Linked DNA regions of Homo sapiens. The protein of the gene in region 4 purifies or fractionates together with the protein of the main gene of each other region. This does not show direct contact. Each region holds a gene or a part of one and is shown on either strand. Other genes may lie near its edges. The genes, in order: GLRX, GOSR1, ACTR3, CHURC1, NMT2 and NMT1.

The links.
Region 1: the proteins of CHURC1 (region 4) and GLRX purify together in Homo sapiens (affinity purification with mass spectrometry; one large-scale study listed by BioGRID and IntAct). This does not show direct contact.
Region 2: the proteins of CHURC1 (region 4) and GOSR1 purify together in Homo sapiens (co-immunoprecipitation; one large-scale study listed by IntAct). This does not show direct contact.
Region 3: the proteins of CHURC1 (region 4) and ACTR3 purify together in Homo sapiens (affinity purification with mass spectrometry; 2 studies listed by BioGRID and IntAct, with this or other methods). This does not show direct contact.
Region 5: the proteins of CHURC1 (region 4) and NMT2 purify together in Homo sapiens (affinity purification with mass spectrometry; one large-scale study listed by BioGRID and IntAct). This does not show direct contact.
Region 6: the proteins of CHURC1 (region 4) and NMT1 purify together in Homo sapiens (affinity purification with mass spectrometry; one large-scale study listed by BioGRID and IntAct). This does not show direct contact.

What each region holds. Positions count from the first base shown.
Region 1 is NC_000005.10:95,816,538-95,819,726, forward strand, and holds part of GLRX (glutaredoxin-1), read right to left. Parts: intron 90-3,189; coding exon 1-89. UniProt on the Homo sapiens protein: Has a glutathione-disulfide oxidoreductase activity in the presence of NADPH and glutathione reductase. Reduces low molecular weight disulfides and proteins.
Region 2 is NC_000017.11:30,483,908-30,487,407, reverse strand, and holds part of GOSR1 (Golgi SNAP receptor complex member 1), read right to left. Parts: intron 3,195-3,500; coding exon 3,107-3,194; intron 2,746-3,106; coding exon 2,638-2,745; intron 1-2,637. UniProt on the Homo sapiens protein: Involved in transport from the ER to the Golgi apparatus as well as in intra-Golgi transport. It belongs to a super-family of proteins called t-SNAREs or soluble NSF (N-ethylmaleimide-sensitive factor) attachment protein receptor.
Region 3 is NC_000002.12:113,931,589-113,935,088, reverse strand, and holds part of ACTR3 (actin-related protein 3), read right to left. Parts: intron 811-3,500; coding exon 703-810; intron 1-702. UniProt on the Homo sapiens protein: ATP-binding component of the Arp2/3 complex, a multiprotein complex that mediates actin polymerization upon stimulation by nucleation-promoting factor (NPF).
Region 4 is NC_000014.9:64,920,955-64,924,454, reverse strand, and holds part of CHURC1 (protein Churchill), read right to left. Parts: intron 465-3,500; coding exon 329-464; intron 1-328. Other genes in the region: CHURC1-FNTB protein, read right to left, coding at 329-464. UniProt on the Homo sapiens protein: Transcriptional activator that mediates FGF signaling during neural development. Plays a role in the regulation of cell movement.
Region 5 is NC_000010.11:15,109,694-15,113,193, forward strand, and holds part of NMT2 (glycylpeptide N-tetradecanoyltransferase 2), read right to left. Parts: intron 3,271-3,500; coding exon 3,103-3,270; intron 2,094-3,102; exon of another isoform or gene 1,835-2,093; intron 147-1,834; coding exon 9-146; intron 1-8.
Region 6 is NC_000017.11:45,064,317-45,067,816, reverse strand, and holds part of NMT1 (glycylpeptide N-tetradecanoyltransferase 1), read right to left. Parts: intron 1-3,500.

The DNA.
Region 1 (3,189 bases), on a different chromosome or scaffold from region 4:
AGCCGCGTCAGCAGTTCCCCACTCTGTTGCAAAGAGACTAGATCACTGCATCCGCCTATACAATCTTTACCAATAAAGACTCGAGGCACCTAAAAAAGCACACGACCCAGGACATTACTACATTACTAGATTAGACAGAACATTTCTATCCTACCACTAAATATTTCCCGTGATTCCAAACTTTTCAAATCACTTTAAAACCTCCTTATGTATATGCTCACAGGACAGGACTTCCTTTCTGTTATAAGGGGTAACATTATTAACTCGAGAATGTTTTTACGCCAGAAGAGTTTTCAAGTTGTGTGCTATGCATGAGCTTGTCCAACTTGTCAAAGGGATTTAAAAATTTCACTCTACAGAAACATGTTTCAGAAGGAGAATTCTGATTGGCTGCAGTCAGACCACCTAGATTGAACTCTGCTTTCTCTGCATCAGGGACCACACCTAAGATTGTAAACTGGGTCACAGCAATCAGGAAGGAAGGAGTTCGTTTCTAAATACAGCTGGAAAAGTATTTGCATTACGTCTCTGATTTTTCAGGTCCATGGTTTATTAAGTACAATCATCTCTCTGTGTTGTTAAAACACAGGTGAGGGCCAGGCACAGTGGCTCATGAATGTAATCCTACTACTTTTGTGAGGCTGAGGTGGGAGGGTCGCTTGAGCCCAGGAGTTCAAGACTAGCCTAGGTAACATCGTGAGACCCCGTCTCTACAAAAAATACAAAAATTAGCCAGGCATGGCGGTGCATGCCTGTAGTCCCAGCTACTCAGGAGGCTGAAGTGGAAGGATTGCTTTGGCCCGGGAGGTCGAGGCTGCAGTAAGCTGTGATGGTGCCATTGCACTCACACCTGGACGACAGAGCAAAACAAAGAAAGCAAAACAAAGCAACACAAGTGAGCTCTGTCCTCAACCAGGGGGGTGTAGTGGTGTTTGAGTCTCCTTTAATCGCTGGTCCATCATAAGATGGTTAACTCACCCCGGATGAGGGTGCGTCACCCACGCCAAGCCACAGTCATGACACCTGCTGAATAGGCTCCTCTCTAGTTACACACTTCCTCCCTGCTGCTAGGAGCAGACACATTCCAGAATTCCAGAGGGCTTTTAGAATCGCGAGGGAGGAGGAAATACCCTCAACGTGGCTGAATTTATAGGCCAGGAGTGTTCCACCAAGGCTGCCTGGCAGTGAAGAAAAAAGCCCCATGGAGGTCACCGCGTCATCAGAGCCAGCGGGCCTCTCCCCGAGTACCAGGAACGCACTGGAGGGGAGGGAGAGGTGGAGGCAGAAAGCAATGAGACTATTTTTCAAAGCTTTGGGCTTTCCTCAGAAAGCATAATAATTGGAGCAAATTGTCCAAAAAGTGAGAAAGGTGAGAAAAGGGGCTTCATTATTGTGGATAAGTTCTTACAGCACTTTTATTAAAAAGGGGGTCTGGGTGAAGGTAGGCATTAAAAATAAAGTCTAAAAATTAAAAACAAATCTTGCACATTTCCATGGCTATTCCCTGTGCTCTCACAGGATAACTGAGGCTTTGAAAACCCACAGCCCTGGAGCTGCCCCCCAGCCTCCTGAGATGACCCTGAAATGTGACCAGGCTGCTCCCAGCGTGGAGTTTTGTGCTCAGTGTCTGGCAAAGAAGCGAAAGGCTCCTTTACCCTCACACCCATCCTCTAGTCTGGACAACTGCAAAACTGCCATAAATCGTATCAGTGAATGGTACCCCTAACGGGAGCTGAATGGCAGGCTGTACAGACGGCACGGGGGTGCTGTGGCAGTGAAACCAAAGCAAGAAGTACTGTTGATAAAGTTGAGCAAAGAAGAGGAAATACCCTGTGCTGCTTCCCCTCCTGTCCCTTCCCGTCCCAGCCTCCTCTTTAGAGGAACTTGAGAGTCCGCTACTGTCAAGGAGAGGAAAGAACTGCCACCCCAAAACGAGTTTGGTAATCCTGTGGTTCTTATTCTCCTGCACTAGGTTTCCCCAGCCTCAGCCAGGCAACATCTCCTGTACGCTAGCTAGGGTTACACAAATGCAACTACTCAAAAGCAATTTCTCAACACTCCTCGGCTACCTCCCTGGTATAAGCCACCTTCATCTGTCACCTGAATAACTACTATAGCCTCCCAATGTCTCCCAGCTTCAACCTTCACCTTTGCCCTACTGTCTCTTCTCCCCACAGCTGCCAGAGTGGCCCTTTCAAAATGGGGTCAGATCAAGTGACTCGTCTGCTCAGCACCCACCAGGGGCATCTCATCTCACACCGAGTACCAGTCACAGTTCTTCCAAGCTCCTATTAGCTCTCAGACCTCACCTCCACTAACTCTCCTACTGGCTCACAGTGCTGCAACTATACTGGCTTCCTTACTATTCCACAAACCTGCCAGGCAAACGTCTACCCCAGGACCTTTGCATTCACTCTACCTGTAAATTGTGTACACCCATCTCCCTCAGCTCCTATAGATATCTGCTCGAATGTTCCCTTCTCAGTGAGACCCAATGGCTCCATTTAAAACTGGACCCTGATGCTTCCTCCCTACCTTTCCTACTTTTCCTCATAGCACGTGCCACTTACCAACTCCCAACATACTGTTTTATTACTGTATTTGTTTGTCTCCCCCACTAGAATATAGGTTCAACAAAGGCAGAAGGGTTTTTTTCATGGCAGAAAAGGCAGAATTTTTTCCCCAATGTACATAAAAGTGTCTGGTACATAGTAGGTGCTTAAAAATATTTGTTGCATCCAGTAAAATCATCATTCAAATGCGAAGGAGAAATACTTTCTAAGGTAAACAAAACTTGAGGGAATGTGTTACCAATGGAATCACCTTGCAAGAAATGCCCAAAGAAGTTCTTCAGAGAGAAGGGAAATGATATAGTTCAGAAACTCAGATCTATGTAAAGAAAAGTGCATTAGAGGAGAAATAAATGAAGGCACTAATTTAGGAGCTGTGACTATAGCAAAACAAAAACAGGTTTTACCAAGTACATGGCTTGATTGAAGCCACTAACTTTCCATAATCATGTCCTGCTGATTACCTACTAGATACAGCTACTTTATAGAATAATTAAGACTGCAGGATCAGGCCGGGCGCCGTGGCTCACGCCTGTAATCCCAGCACTTTGGGAGGCTGAGGCGGGTGGATCACGAGGTCAGGAGATTGAGACCATCCTGGCTAACACAGTGAAAACCC
Region 2 (3,500 bases), on a different chromosome or scaffold from region 4:
ATCAAGTCTTATTTAGAAAGTCCTTTCTGCTCCAAAGTTTACAAATTTCACCTCTGCTTTATGGTTTCTTTTTCTATCCTTCTTGGATCCATTTGGAATTTGTTCTGGATGTGAGGATTGAGATAGAATTGTTTTTTTAAAATCTCTGAATAATTAAGCAATGGTTATAGTTCCATTTATTTTATAATTTCTCTTTGCCCCACTGATTTTAAACAACATCTTTATCAGAAACTAAAAATTTCCAAACATAATTGGGTCTACATATAAACTCTGTTTAATTGTTTTTATTTATTTATTTTTTTTCTCTAGTATCAAACTGTCTTAACTATTCCAGCTTTTTAACAGGTTTTAAGATCTGGTAGAACTAGGAACCCTCTACCACTTATCTTCATTTTCAGGTTGTTTTTCTTGGTTGTTCTTGTATGTCTATGATTCCAAATGAACTTTGGTGTCATTATGTCATTTGTTTTTAATTAAACAAACAACGATACAACCCTGCTGTTTCCACTGGGATGTCATGCAATTTAGACGAAAGTCTTCCTATCCAAAAACAGAATGATTCTTTCCTTTACTTAAATCTTGTTCTATGTCCCTCAGTAGAATTCTGCACATACAAGTCCTACACATTTCTTATTTAATTCATATATAAATGCTTTATAGTTTCTTCCATTGTATTTTCTAACAGGTTATCATTTATTTCCTATCATAATAGGAAAACTATTTGCTTTTATGTATTCATTTTGTGATCTACCATCTTACTGAATTTAATTGTTTCTAACTTTTTATCAGGTAATTTTCTTGCGTGTACTAGACATATAATTTTATCCTGCTACCTCACAGAAATTTTGCCTCTTCCTTTCCAATATTTACATCTTTTTTTTTTTTTTTGAAACAGTCACTCTGTTGCCCAGGCTGGAGTGCAGTGGTGCAATCTCGGCTCACTGCAACCTCCACCTCCCAGGTTCAATGTTCAAGCTATTCTCCTGCCTCAGCCTCCCAAGTAGCTGGGATAACAGGCACCCACCACCACGCCCCGCTAATTTTTGTATTTTTAGTAGAGAAGGGGTTTCACCCTGCTGGCCAGGCTGGTCTCCAACTCCTGACCTCAAATGATCCGCCCACCTCAGACCTCCAAAGTGCTTGGATAAGAGGTGTGAGCCACCATGCCCAGCATACATTTCATTTCTTTTTACTGTCTAATTGCACCATCAAGAACTTAAAAAACAACGTTATACATTTGTAGCGATCATGGGTATCCTTGTCTTGTTTCATACAATGGGAATGTTTTTATTGCTTTCTCTTTAAACACAATGCTAGCTTTTAACCCGATAATACATTTTTGTATTAAAGTATCTTTCTATTCCTACTTTTTTTTTTTTTTTTTTTTTAGATGGAGTCTCAGTCTTGTAGCCTAGGCTGGAGTGCAGTGGTGCAATCTCAGCTCACTGCAACCTCCGCCTCCTGGGTTCAAGCTTCTCCTGCCTCAGCCTCACAAGTAGCTGGGATTACAGGCGCCCACCACTATGCCCAGCTTATTTTTATACTTTTAGTAGAGACAGGGTTTCGCCATGTTGGCCAGGCTGGTCTCCAACTCCTGACCTCAGGTGATCCACCTGCCTTGGCCTCCCAAAGTGCTGGGATTACAGGCACGAGCCACTGCGCCCGGCCATCTATTCCTACTTTTAAAAACAGTTTTTAAAATTAGAAATAGTTGCTGACTTTTCTCAATATTAAAAATATTTGTGGCTGGGTACAGCGGCTCATGCCTATAATTCTAGCACTTTGGAAGGCTGAGGGGGTGGATTGCCCATACACAGGAGTTAAGAGAACAGCCTGGGCAACATAGCAAAAACCTGTGAACACAGGAGTTAAGAGACCAGCCTGGGCAATATAGCAAAACCTCGTGAACACAGGAGTTAGAGACCAGCCTGGGAAACATGGCAAGGACCTGTCTCTGCAAAAGCTTTTAAAAAATTAGCCAGGCGTGGTGGCATGTGCTTGTGGTCCCAGATGCTCAGGACGCTGAGGTAGGAGGCTTGTTTGAGCTTGGGAGGTTGAGGCTGCAGTGAGCTGTGACTGTACTACTGCACTCCAGCCTGAGTGACAGAGAAACCCTATCTCAAAAAAAAAAAAAAAATTGCCTTCCTATTTGTACTACCATATTTTTAACATATCCTCCATTTAAATCTTTAAAAGTTTATTTAGTTTTATTGGTGCATACACATTTACTGTTTTCTTAAACAATATACTAAGTATAGTAAATAATTCCCCCTCCATATTATCTTCAAAGCTAGCTGAAAGTACACGCTTACCCACCACGTTATTGTCTATACATGACCATTGGCTATTTCACTGTTACAGCTAGCTAGCTAGGTCTCCCATAGTGGAAGTATATGTACCCAGTGATGAATATTACTCAACTTCGCCAAGAAATAGCAAGAGCTATTAGATATTTTCAGAATTTTATAATGGTGACCCCAAAAAAAAGTAAAACAAGTCCCTTTAGCATGGCATTTATTTTCTCAGATTTTTCTCTTTGTCCTTTTAAATATATGTGCACATATCCAATGCAGGGATTAAAAAAAAAAAAACCCAAACTCCTGTGATAATGAAAACATCTCGAGCCCAATATATTACCTGCAATATGTCTCTATGCCGCTGTAATGTATGCATCAGGGCTGCATTCAAGGAGGGGACACCTGCACTGTTGGTATATTCTGCCATTTTATCATTTACCCCTGTAAGCTAGAAATAAAGAAAAAAAAAACAATCAAAATATTTTACTAAGCACTATAAACAGCTAAAAGCAAATTATTTGCCTATATGCCCTTTTGGTTGACAGCAAAACAAAACAAAACAAAACAAAACAAAAAACAAACAAGAGAGCAAGTAAGAATTCAGCATTCCCCCACATAATCCATAAAGACCAAAATAACATCATATCACCTGAGAATGGCTGTCATCAAAATTCAAGTGGTGTGGGGAGGTACACATATTGAATGGAATGGATAATTTCAATAAACATGTCTGTCTCAATATAATCCAGGATCCTACGTAACAAGTATACAGTTATTTGCAAAATAGCCATTTAACAGAAAGCACTTACCCTTGCCAAAAGTTGTTCAATCTCAATCGCCATTGTCTCAAACATTCTGTCTTGGCTTGATCCATTTAAAAGGGGTGTTGTATCAGAACTAAAAAGAAGTTCAGTTAAAGAGGATCCATTACTCAAATCAGTCCTTTAAAACATACTTAAAATAATAAGGTGATTAATAGGAGCCATAAAATGAATTATGGATTATGTTATATAGGGTCTGTGAGAAACGATCTTTTACATTTTTACCCCAAAGGAATTATGGTTCCTTCAACCTCAACATTACATTCTCTCTTCTTTCCTTGACTCTTACCAAGAGGAAATAAGATTGAGGTTTAAATGATCCACAGATTGGATAACTAGCTAACGAATACTCAGGAACTGGCTTTAAATCCAATATATACAG
Region 3 (3,500 bases), on a different chromosome or scaffold from region 4:
ACAGACATTGCCTGATGCATTAAACACTGGAGTGAGAATAAAAAAAAAAAAAAGTTCAAAATAATGTAAATCCTTAAGTGATATTCATTATAATATAAAAATTACTTTAAAAGATAAACCTTTCTCTATATACCCATTTAATAATAAACAGTATGAATTCTAGTAGTCATTTTGAATTCATTAGGCATAATTTTTTTAAAACTTGATGTATCATTAAGAACTGAAGCACAACGGCCTTGGAAGAAAAATGTTATTTCTGACAATCTAATTTGATGCATTTTTCTTAATATGCTTTATTAAGTACAAACCATAAAGCATCTACTAAAGTTCAGGTACTTAAAACTAACTGTTATACAGTTACCCTGTACACCAGTCTGAAATCTGTTAATTATGAATAAAAGAGGTCATCAAATGGCTAACACACATCCAACTGGAAAACAGAATGAAAGCCATTAATATACTTCCATTCCAGATATTGCAATTTGTAATTTTCTTAATTGCAGTACAAACCTACAGTAAAAGAAACATTTTGAATTGTTTATAAAAGTTTTAAACGGTGAGCAAAACATAGCTATAACTGGACAAATGGCCAAATTATAGTGCAGCATTTAAAGTTTTTTAAAAGTAACATTAATTCGTATAATTTAACTTTGCCAGATGTGTTATTTCATGTTCTGTTCAGTAACTGTAAAATAGCCTTACCACAGGAATGACATGAGTGACACCATCTCCACTGTCTATTACCGTACCGGTCAACGTCCGTTCTCCTACTTGTCTTGAGGTCCAAGATGCAGCTAAGGCAAGAACAGCCTTGAGCACAAAGAAAGAAGAAAGGCAAAAAAACAAAAAAAAAAAACAAAAAAACAAAGAGTTAATCGAAAAAAAAAAAACTAGTTCCCTGGAGTACTTTATTCAATTTTAAATGTAGTATCTGTGGAAAGAAAATACATAAAATTAATTTTGTATTATGCAATAAAATAGCTCACTCCCTACATTTTATTAAGACAAACTTAGAGGTTTACATTTGCTTTTAGGAGCATGATTTGTAAGATTTACATATTTTATAAAGGCTATTTCTGTCCTAAAGCTAAAAATGTGGAAGATTGCATTAAACAGTACAGAACTAACTGTCTGTAATCCCAGCACTTTGGGAGGCCGAGGCGGGCAGATCACGAGGTCAGGAGATCGAGACCTTCCTGGCTAACACGGGGAAACCCCGTCTCTACTAAAAAATACAAAAACTTAGCCAGGTGCGGTGGCGGGCGCCTGTAGTCCCAGCTACTCAGGAGGCTGAGGCAGGAGAATGGCGTGAACCCGGGAGGCGGAGCTTGCAATGAGCCGAGATCATGCCACTGTACTCCAGACTGAGCGACAGAGCAAGACTCCATCTCAAAAAAAAAAAAAAAAAAAATTGTATAGAACTAACTTGCCAGAACTTAAACTATGTCCACGTGGGCTGGCCTGTTACAAACTGCAATGTAAGGCAGAAAGTACACAACCACCCTACCTCCAGTTATTCAATACATATATGGCTATAAACAACTATTACTAAAAGATTACCTTCTTTTTCTTTTTTTCTTTGAGACAGAGTTTCTTTCTGTCACCCAGGCTGGAATGCAGTGGCACGATCTCGGCTCACCGCAATCTCCGCCTCTTGGGTTCAAGCAATTCTCTGCCTCAGCCTCCGGAGTAGCTGGGATTACAGGTGCCCACCACCACACCCGGCTAATTTTTGTATTTTCAGTAGAGACGGGGTTTCACCATCTCAGCCAGGCTGATCTTGAACTCCTGACCTTGTGATTCACCTGCCTCAGCCTGCCAAAGTGCTGGGATTATAGGCATGAGCCACTGTGCCAGGCCTACCTTCAAATTTTTTTAAGGTAACATGTGTTTAGGACTATATGACATACAGAAAACGCCATCGCACACCTCCAAATACTACTATGATTTAATTATGGAGCAACGTTGATAAAATTTTTCTATGAAAAACCTTGGTACAGACAATACAACACAATTCTTTTTTAAGTGTGAGAATTAAGAAATTAACATAGTTCATTTTTTAAAAAACTAAATTTCTTACAATCCAAGCCTCAAACAAAGTATATGACTAGTAATTAAAAACAACTAAACTTATACTGGACTTATTTTACCTACCTGGACTGTAATAGCTAAAAGGGACCTAGAAAGCTATCTAGGTCACCCTCCTATCTGAACACAAGATCATATTAACACAATCACCACATAATCACTATAGGCTAACAGAACTATACATTATTTTTTGACAATCTTAAAATGAAAAATTCCATCCTAATACTAGTTATATATATATATACTGTTTAGACTTCATTATGAGATATCCTTCCTCTATAAGTAAGTTCAAAACTATCATCTACAACCAAGAATTATCTCTGATCACTTTTACAAGTCTTTTGTAAACAGTTACGGTCCCAAACTAGAATAGATATGTATCAGCACATCATGTTACAGAAATGTTATTGACTACTGAACATCAACAAAACAGAACAGAGATTAAATAATGAAATTAAGAGCACTCAGAGGCCACTAAGGAAATCACTGAAAAACCAAATTACGACTCCAGAGGAATGAAACAAAGCTCATGATGCCAGTGTTTTAAAGTAAGCTTTACCTGACAATATGGTTAAACATAAGTTTATTATATTTAACATAGGATGAGAAGCAAAAACTCCCAAGTGAAAGATGAATTTTCCCAACTCCTCATTTTATTCATATTCTAAGAACTAAAAAAGGGCCTCCCACTCAAGACTGAATTCTTCTATAAAGTTCATGACAGGTTTAAGTGACTCCTTAAATATTTTTAGCAGCAGAGAATTTAAAAGGCAGTTCATTAAATTTATGGATTGCATTAAACATTAAAAAGTTCTTTGCTATCCAAGTTAAAATATTCATCCATAATTATCACTTATTGATTCTGTGTACCGTGGAGTTACAAAAACCAGTGTGATCCCAAGAAAGAGCAAAGTCAGACAGACCTCAGCTGCCTGGTATCACAGCTAACCATTTAATTATGAATAAAGTGCCTTCCAGCTTTAGTTTTCTTCCTCCACAAAAAACAGAAACAAAAATATCTACATTTAATAGAAATAATGAATTAATACACATATAAAGCATTTGTGTTATGTCAGGGATTACCTCTGCTACAAGGGAAAAAAAAAAAAAATGAGGTCAGCTCTGATCCTGAGGGGTGGGAGAGAAGCTGTTCCATACAGATAAACGTACAAATTAAGAGAAGTGAAATATTAGGGTGTCAAATATACCTAAAGATAAGTCAATCAAAAAAGACTACAATAAAGGACAAAAAGATTTATAAGGATAAATGATAAAGGATTATTTACAAGGATAAATATATATACAATGTTCTTGTCACAGAGAAAGCATTCCATAAATATTAGTTCCTTCATTTCTGTCCTATGAAAGCCCTTGAAATACCCAAACACCACTAACTTACTTTTTTAACACTT
Region 4 (3,500 bases):
AGGTCACAATAATAACAATAATAAAAAGTATATCTTGTTAAGGCAGCATAAAGCTTTTAAAAATATGTCCGTGAAAAATAATTTGATAAACAAAAAAAATTCAGTTCCTGAATCGTAAGCTTTAGTTATCTGCAAAAGTCATTTACATAGACTATTTGATATCCCAGATAAATGAGGTGTTAATGACATTTTCCTCTTAAAGACCTAACTAGTAATTATGTGCGCAATACAATATTGAAATAGGCCTCAGAATATTTTGTGTAACATATCGACTTCCAAAAGCTGACACCTGCTAACACACTCAGGTTAAAAAATAAAGTCTACTTACGATCATAGGTAACTATTTCTTCTCCATCTTCTTCTTTCAAGGATTTGTTTGTGATCAGCATAAAATCCCGCTTACTGCACACTGCACAGCCTGTAAAGTTCAGTAAGAAAGATCCATTCTCCAGGCAGGTATTACCCTAAAATATCAGAAACAGGAATTTAATTTCTTTACATTTCAAAATCTTTAGTGAAGATGATTAACAGACTTAAAATGTCTAAAGGCAAAACAAAACTAAAAAATGGCCAGCATTTACTTCTAGGTCATATACCAAATAATTTTTGAAATTACTAGCTTTCCTAAAGAAGTGTTACTCATGTTAAAAAAAAAAAAAAAAAAAAAGCAACTAAAGTGCAGTGTTAGATCCTTAAGTCTGTAAGGACTGCCACTATGTTGAAAAGGGAGGATAAACTGAAAATAGATATTTAGAAACAACTTAAGGAAACCTTAATATAAAATATGAAAATAGAAAATTAGAAAAATTTAATAACCAACAATATTAAACGAGGCTTACCAACTAAAATTAAATTCAATCAAAATAGAAACTGAGTCAATGATAAAGATGATCTTACATAGATGTTTAGTTGTTTGTTCAAATAGTTTTGATCCTTGATCATAATACAAAATAAACAAAAGTAAACTCTCAGCTCTATAGATGTCAGTCCTTAAGGATACACATGATTGAGGCAGAGAAGCTTAAGTTCTTCATTTCGTAAGACTGACACAATGGCATTTAAGAGAGAATGGGTTTTACATCTTTACTAAGAAACTATACAAATTTTCAAAAAAAGTTTTTAAAAAAGAAATTCTAAATAACTTATGCTCCTGGCTCAAAGGAAGCCTTTTTTTTTTTTTTGGTAATTGAGATGGGGTCTTGCTATGTTGCCCAGGCTGGTCTCAAACTCCTGGGCTCAAATGATCTTCCCACCTCAGCCTCCCAAGTATTGGGATTACAGTTGTGAGCCACCGTCCCCGACCCAAAGGAAGTCTTTGCTAAAGGCTAATAATTAATAATTAAAAGTCACTTTATAAATAATCTAGTCCAATCCCATTTCTCAGCAACACACTTAAAGAGTATTTTTAAATAATGTGATTAAAAATCACTCAAATCAACGTTTCTCCAGTGCATCTGTGTCTGATATTGTGCAAAGCACAACAGAGGATTCAAAGATGAGCCAAACATGTTGCTACCTTCAAGGAGTTTTAAGAAGCATCAGCGAAATTAAGATCCACCATAAATAATGCCACTAGGAAGTCTTTCTGGATTCCAAGCACCAGAATTAATCTCTCCCTTCTATGTATTGAGGAAGAGATTAATTCTGGTGGGAGAATTAATCTCTCCCTTCTATATATTGAGGAATCTCTCCCTTCTATGTATTGAGGAAGACATTAATTCTAGTGGGAGAAATCAAGACATTACTACATAGTTATTAAATCATAGGTGTACTGCCTTAACTACTAAAAGGGAAAAGGGCCTTAGGATTAAAGTATACATTTCCAGTTATTAAGAACAAATGCTTTGCTTTGATTTTTTTTTTTTTTTTTTTTTTTTGAGACGGAGTCTCGCTCTGTCACCCAGGCTGAAGTGCAGTGGCACACTCTCGGCTCACTGCAAGCTCCACCTCCCAGGTTCATGCCATTCTCCTGCTTCAGCTTCCCAAGTAGCTGGGACTACAGGTGCCCGCCACCACGCCCTGCTAATTTTTCGTATTTTTAGTAGAGATGGGGTTTCACTATGCTAGCCAGGATGGTCTCGATCTCCTGACCTCGTGATCTGCCCGTCTCGGCCTCCCAAAGTGCTGGGATTACAGGAATGAGCCACTGTGCCCAGCCTTTGATTTTTTTTTTAATAAAATCTACTGAGGTACAATTTACATACAATAAAATTCACACACTGTAAGGGTATACATAGGTGAATGACTTTTAACCAATGTATATACCCATGTAACCACTACCCTAGTGAAGGTATAAAACATTTCTATCCACCCCAAAAAGTTCCTTCATGCTTTTCAGTCTATCTCTAACCTCCATCCCACCCCAGACACCCACTGATCTGATTTCCATCTCCAGTCTTGCACGTTCTAGAATTTTATATAAACAGAATCAGTATACTCCCGCATCCAATTTTCCTTGCTCGATATAATGCCTATGTTCATCATCACTGTTGTTCTAGGTACTGGTAGTTTGTTGCTTTTCATTGCCAAATAGTATTCCCTGTAGGATTCAGCTGTTGGTAGATATTTGGGTTGTTTCCATTTGGGGCTATTATGAATAAAGCAGCTATAGAGATTCATGTGCAAGTCTTGGATGGATACATGTCTTCCTTTCCCTTGGGTAAATATGTAGAAGTGGAATTGCTAATATGGTAAAAATATGGTATATTTAACTTTACAAGAAACTGCCAAATGGTTTTCCAATTTACATTCCTGCCAGCAATGTGTGAGTTCCAGTTGCTCTATAGCTACATCAATACTAGGTACTGCTTTTTATTTTTGCCATTCAGTGACGTAAAGTGGTATCTCATTGTAGTTTTAACTTTTGTTTCCTTGATGACTAATGATGTTGAGCATCTTTTCATGGTGCTTATTCATGTATCTTCTTTTATGAAATGTCCATTCAAGTCTTTTGCCCATTTTCAAAAAGTTAGGTTGTTTATTTTGAGTTGTAAGAGTTCTTTATATATCTTAGATACAAGTTTTTTCCCAAATATATTTTCTCCGTCATTGATTTGCCTTTTTTGATGGTTTCTTCTAATGAGCAAACAAGTTTTGATTTTCATAAAGTCCAATTTAACATTTTTTCTTTTATAATTTATACTTTTTTTCTCCTAAGACATCTCTGCCTACCCCAGGGTTGCACAAAGTTTCTTACATTTTTTTCTAGAAGTTTTATAGCTTTTAGTTTGTAGATTTAGGTTTATAATCCATTTTGAAATAATTTTATATATGAGGTAAGGATCAAGGTTTATTTAGTTGCGTATGGATTTCCAGTTGTTTTGGCAAGATTTGTTGAAGAACTGTCTTTCCCCCCACTGAATTACAATGGTGCTTTTGTAGAAAAAAGTCAATGACCATATATATGTGGGTCTGCTTTGACTATTCTGTTCCCTTGATACATATATCTACCTTCCCACTAATATCAAACTCTCTTGATTACTATAGTTTTTATAGTTAGT
Region 5 (3,500 bases), on a different chromosome or scaffold from region 4:
TCACTTACCTTTTCAGAATCTGTACCTGGACACCTCCAATTGTACAGGTAATACTGCAAATTGCCATCTCCTATACCAAACTTGAGTTTTTCCAAGAATGTCTTATTTTCCATCAAATCCAGTGCATTGAATACATCAAATCCTTTCTGCCAATTTAAAAAAGATTTAAAATTTAAAACAAAGGACTAGTGTTTTCTGTATTACATATCTCAGTTTAACAATTCTACTAATAGCTCGAATATGCATTTCTAATAGGATTTAACGTCCGTGATATATAGCATAGGTTAAGAATTCAGGGCCGGATGCTGTGGCTCATGCCTATAATCCCAGCACTTTGGTAGGCTGAGGTGGGTGGATCACTTGAGGTCAGGAGTTCGAGACCAGCCTGACCAACATGGCGAAACCCCATCTCTACTAAAAATAACAAAAATAAGCCAGATGTGGTGGCGCACACCTGCAGTCCCAGCTACTCAGGAGGCTGAGGCAGGAGAACTGCTTGAGCCTGGGAGGTAGAGGTGGCAGTGAGCCGAGATTGTGCCACGGCACTCCAGCCTGAGCGACAGAGTGAGACTTTTTTTTTTTCTTTCTTTAAAAAGAGGAAGAATTCAGTTGAAAATTGTCTTATAAAACTAGCAGTGTGGCTGGATGTGGTGGCTCACGCCTGTAATCCCAGCACTTTGGGAGGCCAAGGTGGGAGGCTCACTGGAGCCCAGGAATTTGAAACCAGCCTGGGCATAGGCTGTAGGTATAGGTGTAGGTGTAGGTACAGGACATTGTCTCTACAAAAATAAAAAGATTGACTCGGCATGGTGGTGTGTGCCTGTGGACCCAGCTACACAGGAGGCTGAGGCAGGATTGCATAAGCCGAAGAGGTCGAGGCTGCAGTGAGCTGTGATTGTGCCAGTGCACTTAAACCTGAGCAACAGAGTGAGCGCCTGTCTCAAAAAACAAACAAACTATAGTGAATCCAATGAAGTCAGCATGAAAATTCAGAAACGCTGAATCCCAAAAATGTTAAAAATGTAGTATGATGGCTGTCACTGGCATAAAATTACTTATGAAGATTTCAGAAAATATTTTATTTATGTTTTATTTATTTATTTTTAAATTTTTTTGAGATGGAGTCTCACTCTGTCATCCAGGCTGGAATACAGTGGCATGATGTCGGCTCACTGCAACCTCCACCTCCCAGATTTAAGCAATTCTCCTGCCTCAAACTTCCTAGTAGCTGGCATTACAGGTGTGCACCTCCATGCCCAGCTAATTTCTTTGTATTTTTAGTAGAGACCGGGTTTCACCGTGTTGGCCAGGCTGGTCTTGAACTCCGACCTCAAGTGATCCACCTGCCTTGGCCTTCCAAAGTGCTGGGATTACAGGCATGAGCCACTGCACCCAGCCTCGTTCTTGTTTTAGAAGGGAACAGTTGTCAAGATGGTTTCATCTCCAGGATTATTAATTATTAGCCTTTCTAAGTCCTACCTTGGCTGAAGCTATTGCCCAGGGACCAAAGTTGTAAAGACTTTAAATAGTATGCAGGCCGGGCGTGGTGGCTCACGCCTGTAATCCCCGCACTTTGGGAGGCCGCAGCAGGTGGATCACCTGAGGTCAGGAGTTCGAGACCAGCCGGGTCAATATGATGAAACCCTGTCTCTACTAAAAATACAAAAATTAGCCAGGTGTGGTGGCACACACCTATAGTCCCAGCTACTCTGGAGGCTGAGACAAGAGAATCACTTGAACATGGGAAGCAGAGGTTGCAGTGAGCCGAGACTGTGCCACTGCACTCCAGCCTGGGTAACACAGCAAGACTCATCTCAAAAAAAAAAAAAAAAAAAAAAGTATAAAAAAATAGTATGTTTGCTTTGGGCTGATAATGGGAAATATATTTATGTAAAATTTTAATGGTAAAAAATTAAATTTCTTTAAAATGTCAGACAATAATACTATGCAAAATGTGATATAGAAGAAGCACTTTTTATTTTTATTTCTCAGGGTTTTTACCTTAAATAACTAATTACTGGCCATATTTGGGAAGTGTTGAAAAAAAGCAGACAATCTGAGGATGATGTTGACTTGGGGATCCAAAGGCACAGGTAAGAGATTTTTATTTTATTTTATTTTAATTAATTAATTAATTTGAGACAGGGTCTCACTCTGTGGCCCAGGCTGGAATGCAATGGTGCAATCTCGGCTCACTGCAACCGCCAACTCCCAGGTTCAAGTAATCCTCTTGCCTCAGCCTCCCGAGTAGCTGGGATTACAGGTGTGTGCTATCACACCCTGCTAATTTTTGTATTTTTAGTAGAGACAGGGTTTCACCATGTAGACTGGCTACAATTAAATTTTGAATTTCATTCCTTTAATTTTAAAATTCAGAGACTATTTGGTTGAATAAAAAAATTGCTGCTAGTTATTCACTCAACAAAAATATTCACTCATGTATTAATATTTTCCTTATATTACTTCCTAAGATATGGGCTTTATATATATATATATATATATATATATATATATATATATATATTTTTTTTTTTTTTTTTTTTTTTTTTTTTTTTTTTGAGACAGTTTCTGTCACCCAGGCTGGAGTGCAGTGGTGCAATCTCAGCTCCATTGCAACCTCTGCCTCCCAGGTTCAAGCAATTCTCCTGCCTCAGCCTCCCGAGTAGCTGGGATTACAGGCACACACCACGAAGCCTGGCTAACTTTTGTATTTTTAGTAGAGACGAGGTTTCACCATATTAACCAGGCTGGTCTTAAACTCCTAACCTCAGGTGATCCACCCATCTCGGCCTCCCAAAGTGTTGGGATTACAAGCCTGAGCCACCATGCCCAGCCTTATATATTCTTATATAAGGATTAAACATTTATAATTTGTACATTTTGTCTTTTTTGTTAAACTGCCATAAAATTAATGATGAAAATAGCCTCTAAAGTTTCAAAAGAAACTCTTATCAAAATTCTTCCTTTGACTGATGATCAATAGTTTTTTTAAAGTCTCGCATAAATTCCACCTGTGTGGAAGAAAACACAGTAAGATGTCTTCTATAGTTTGGCACAGACATTTGGAGAACCAAACGGCGTGAACAGGAAGGAGTGGCTTACCGATTTAGCCAGGATGAGCGCGTCGCTCATGAGGTCCAGCAGGGGCGTCTCTGTGTGGATGTTGTAGAATGAGTAGGCGGCTTTGAGGCTCTTGTGAGCAGGGTGGTGCATCACCGTGGAGGGGAGCGTATAGAAGCTCAGGAAATCAGTCAGTTTACCGTTGGGGCTCTAGGAGCAAAAGTGCTGTCAGACAGAGATCTCCTTGAACCAACTGCATACGTGCATTTCCACTAACTCTGTTCTCTCCCTTGCCCCAGAGAACGAAAAGCAGTAAGTCACACTTCTTTCTCGGCAGTCCAATTTGGGGCCCCTTATATTGTGCTGTGTAGAGGCCAAGAAGGGCCTGGAGTTGGGACTTCAGCCTAAGTGCCCATTGGTGATTTGCACAAAGTTCTTAG
Region 6 (3,500 bases), on a different chromosome or scaffold from region 4:
CTTTGAAGCAGCTCTTGATTAGTTTCTTTTTAATTGCCATTTAATTGGGAAACAAAATTAGAACACTTATTTGATATCAGTGATGAGGTTTCTCTTTCCATTCTGCTTTGATCTAGTTTTGAAAAACCAAAAGTTGAAGGGAGAAATTAAAAAGGAACTAAAAAGATTTCTTATTTCCAAGAGCTAGCTGCAGCTATAAGCCATCAAATAAATAGGGAAAGAACGACTCTTGGAGAAGCTGAAGAAAAAAACAAAAACAAGTAAGGCTAGCTTTATGGAATTTATTTTCAGAAAGACTTTTCTCTCCTCCTAAGTTTTCATAAGGGATAGTATCTCACAACCAGGAAATGAGGAGAACTTATAAAGAATCCATGTTAACCTGTCCCAGGGAGTAAGAGAGCAGGATGGAGATGAGACACCTCTTGTCAGAGGGCTCTTGACCCGTGCTTACCAGGATCTCAATGACACTGAAGACACTGCAAAATAAATTCCGAAAGATTCCTAGAACACAATAGTCTAAAAGTTCTTTTTTGTTCCAAAACACTCAGACAATCTTCACTTATTACCCCCAAATTAAAATCTGCCAACTGATGAGATTTATTCTTTGGCAATACTTCTTGGAAAGACTCTCATTAAAAAAAAAAAAAAATCAAATTAAACCATATAGATGAATCACGAACTACAGGGGGATGCTGCATAAAGGTTATCTTATCTGACTCTCCTCTCAATTGTTCAGGATAATTACGCTAGGCACGTAACTGGGGGAAATTGAGTGCAGTAAAAAAACAAACAAAACCAGCTGGATGCAGGAGCTTATGCCCACAATCCCAGCAGTTTGGGAGGCCAAGGTGGCAGCATCACTTGAGGCCAGCAGTTTGAGACCAGCCTGGGCTAAATAGTGAGACCCCATCTCTACAGAAACTTTTTAAAAAGAAAATTAGCCAGGGATGATGGTGCATGTCTACAATCCTAGCTACTTGGGAGGCTGAGGTGGGAGGATCGCTTGAGCCCAGGTCAAAGGCTGCAGTAAGCCATGATCACACCACTGTACTATAGCCTGGACGACAGAGCGAGGCCCTGTTTCCAAAGTAATAACAATAATTTTAAAATTAAATTAAAAAATTTTTAAATAGAAAAACTGAAGAGACGCACCCATACACACTGCATATGTATGCATGTATACCTATATGTATACATGAAGGGTTTGGGTTTTTTTGTTTTTATTTATAGAGATGGGGTCTCACCATGTTGCCCAGGCTGGTCTCGAACTCCTGAGCTCAAGTGATTTTTCTGCCTCAGCCTCCCAAAGTGCTGAGATTACAGGCATGAGCCACTACACACAACCACATGAAGTTTTATATTCACCAAATGTTTATGCTGATTTAATTACGGAGGAAACACAAGACCAGAAAAGTCAAGAACTAAATTCATATACAAAGAGACATAAGTAACTAATACAACTGGCCGGGCGTGGTGGCTCACACCTGTAATCCTAGCACTTTCGGAGGCCAAGGCAGGTGGATTGCCTGAGCTCAGGAGTTCAAGACCAGCCTGGGCAACAACGGTGAAACCCCGTCTCTACTAAAATATGAAAAATTAGCCGGGTGTGGCAGTGTGCTCCTGTAGTCCCAGCTACTCAGGAGGCTGAGGCAGGAGAATTTCTTGAACCCGGGAGGCAGAGGTTGCAGTGAGCCAAGATCGCGCCACAGCACTCCAGCCCGGGCAACAGAATCCAGTACATGAATTTAGCTCATTTTATTAGCATAGAGTACTATGACTTTAGTTCCTGAAAAAAAGGGGCAGGAGGCTGGGTGTGGTGGCTCATGCTTACAATCCCAGCACTTTGGGAGGCTAAGGCAGGAGGATCACTTGAACCCAGGAGTTTGAGACTAGTCTGAGCAACATAGCGAGACACAGTCTCTTTAAAAAAAAAAAAAGGCCCAGGAGAATAAGGGTTAGCTCGAACTATCATTAACCTTTATTATATATTACACATTTTAGACTCTCTAGCATTGAAAGGAAAACTTCTCTGTCAATTTTTACATGATTTTTGAGAACATTTTAAATAATATTAAGACAAAAAACATTTCAAGAAGCAAAACACAGTGGAAAGCACACAACAGTGGAAAGCTCCACAGCAAATTGGAGCTTCCTGGTTTCTGTAGGTATTTCTTTTTTTTTTTTTTTTTTTTTGAGACAGAGTCTGGCTCTGTCGCCCAGGCTGGAGTGCAATGGCGCAATCTCGGCTCACTGCAAGCTCCGCCTCACAGGGTCACACCATTCTCCTGCCTCAGCCTCCCGAGTAGCTGGGACTACAGGCATGCGCCACCACACCTGGCTAATTTTTTGTATTTTTATTAGAGATGGGGTTTCACTGTGTTAGCCAGGATGGTCTCGATCTCCTGACCTCATGATCCCGCCCGCCTTAGCCTCCCAAAGTGCTGGGATTACAGGTGTGAGCCACCATGCCCTGCCTCTGTAGGTATTTCATAAAAACTGTAGTGAGGCTTACAATGAGAATTATTTGGGGAGAGAAAATGTGTATGTAAGAAAAATCTGACATCCTCTCACTTGGTGAGGGGAGATGAAACTCCACTAATACTGGGCTAGGCACTTTAATATCTGCCATTCATTCATACAGCAAATACTCATTAATGCCCACTAAGTGCTAGGCATTTCGAAGACACAATCCTGTTTACATGCTCCTTACTGTCAGATGAGACAGGTACCAGACACATTAAGAAAAATTACCAAACATGTAGTTATATTTATTGTTATTATAACTATTGTTACGATAAAAGCTACAATACAGTATGTGATAAGAGCAGAGGGGCAAGCTGGGAGGTTAGGGACGATCTGAAGAAAGAGGAGGAGGGAGGAAAAGGAGTGCATTCCAGATGTTATCTCATTAATCCCTACAACTCTGAGTTAAGTACCTTTCCCAAGGTCACAGGACTGTTAAGTGTCAGAGCCAAGCTTTGAGATGAGATTTTGAGATCAGAGGCTTGCTCTGTCGCCCAGGCTGGAGTGCACTGGAGAGATCTCAGCTCAGTGCAACCTCTGCCTCCTGTTTTCAAGTGATTCTCCTGCCTCAGCCTCCTAAGTAGCTAGGATTACAGGCGCCTGCCATCATGCCCAGCTAATTTTTGTATTTTTAGTAGAGATGAGGTTTCACTATGCTGGCCAGGCTGGTCTCAAACTCCTGACCACAAGCGATCTGCCCACCTCAGCCTCCCAAAGTGCTGGGATTACAGATGTGCGCCACCGCGCCTGGCCTCAGACCAGATTTAAATTATTCCAAAGTCCATGCTTTTCTACTGTGCCGTGCTGCATTTTCCCACATTGCTGCTTCTCCCCAAAACCATTTCCTCTCAAAGTTCATGGAAAAATGTTGACTCTACCCCAGATTCTTAGTGCCAGAATTAGACTCTCTCCTCCAGACTAGGCCCTTGGTTTTTCACCTACTACCTCCAAACTCATTTTCACAGATCTTTAGATTT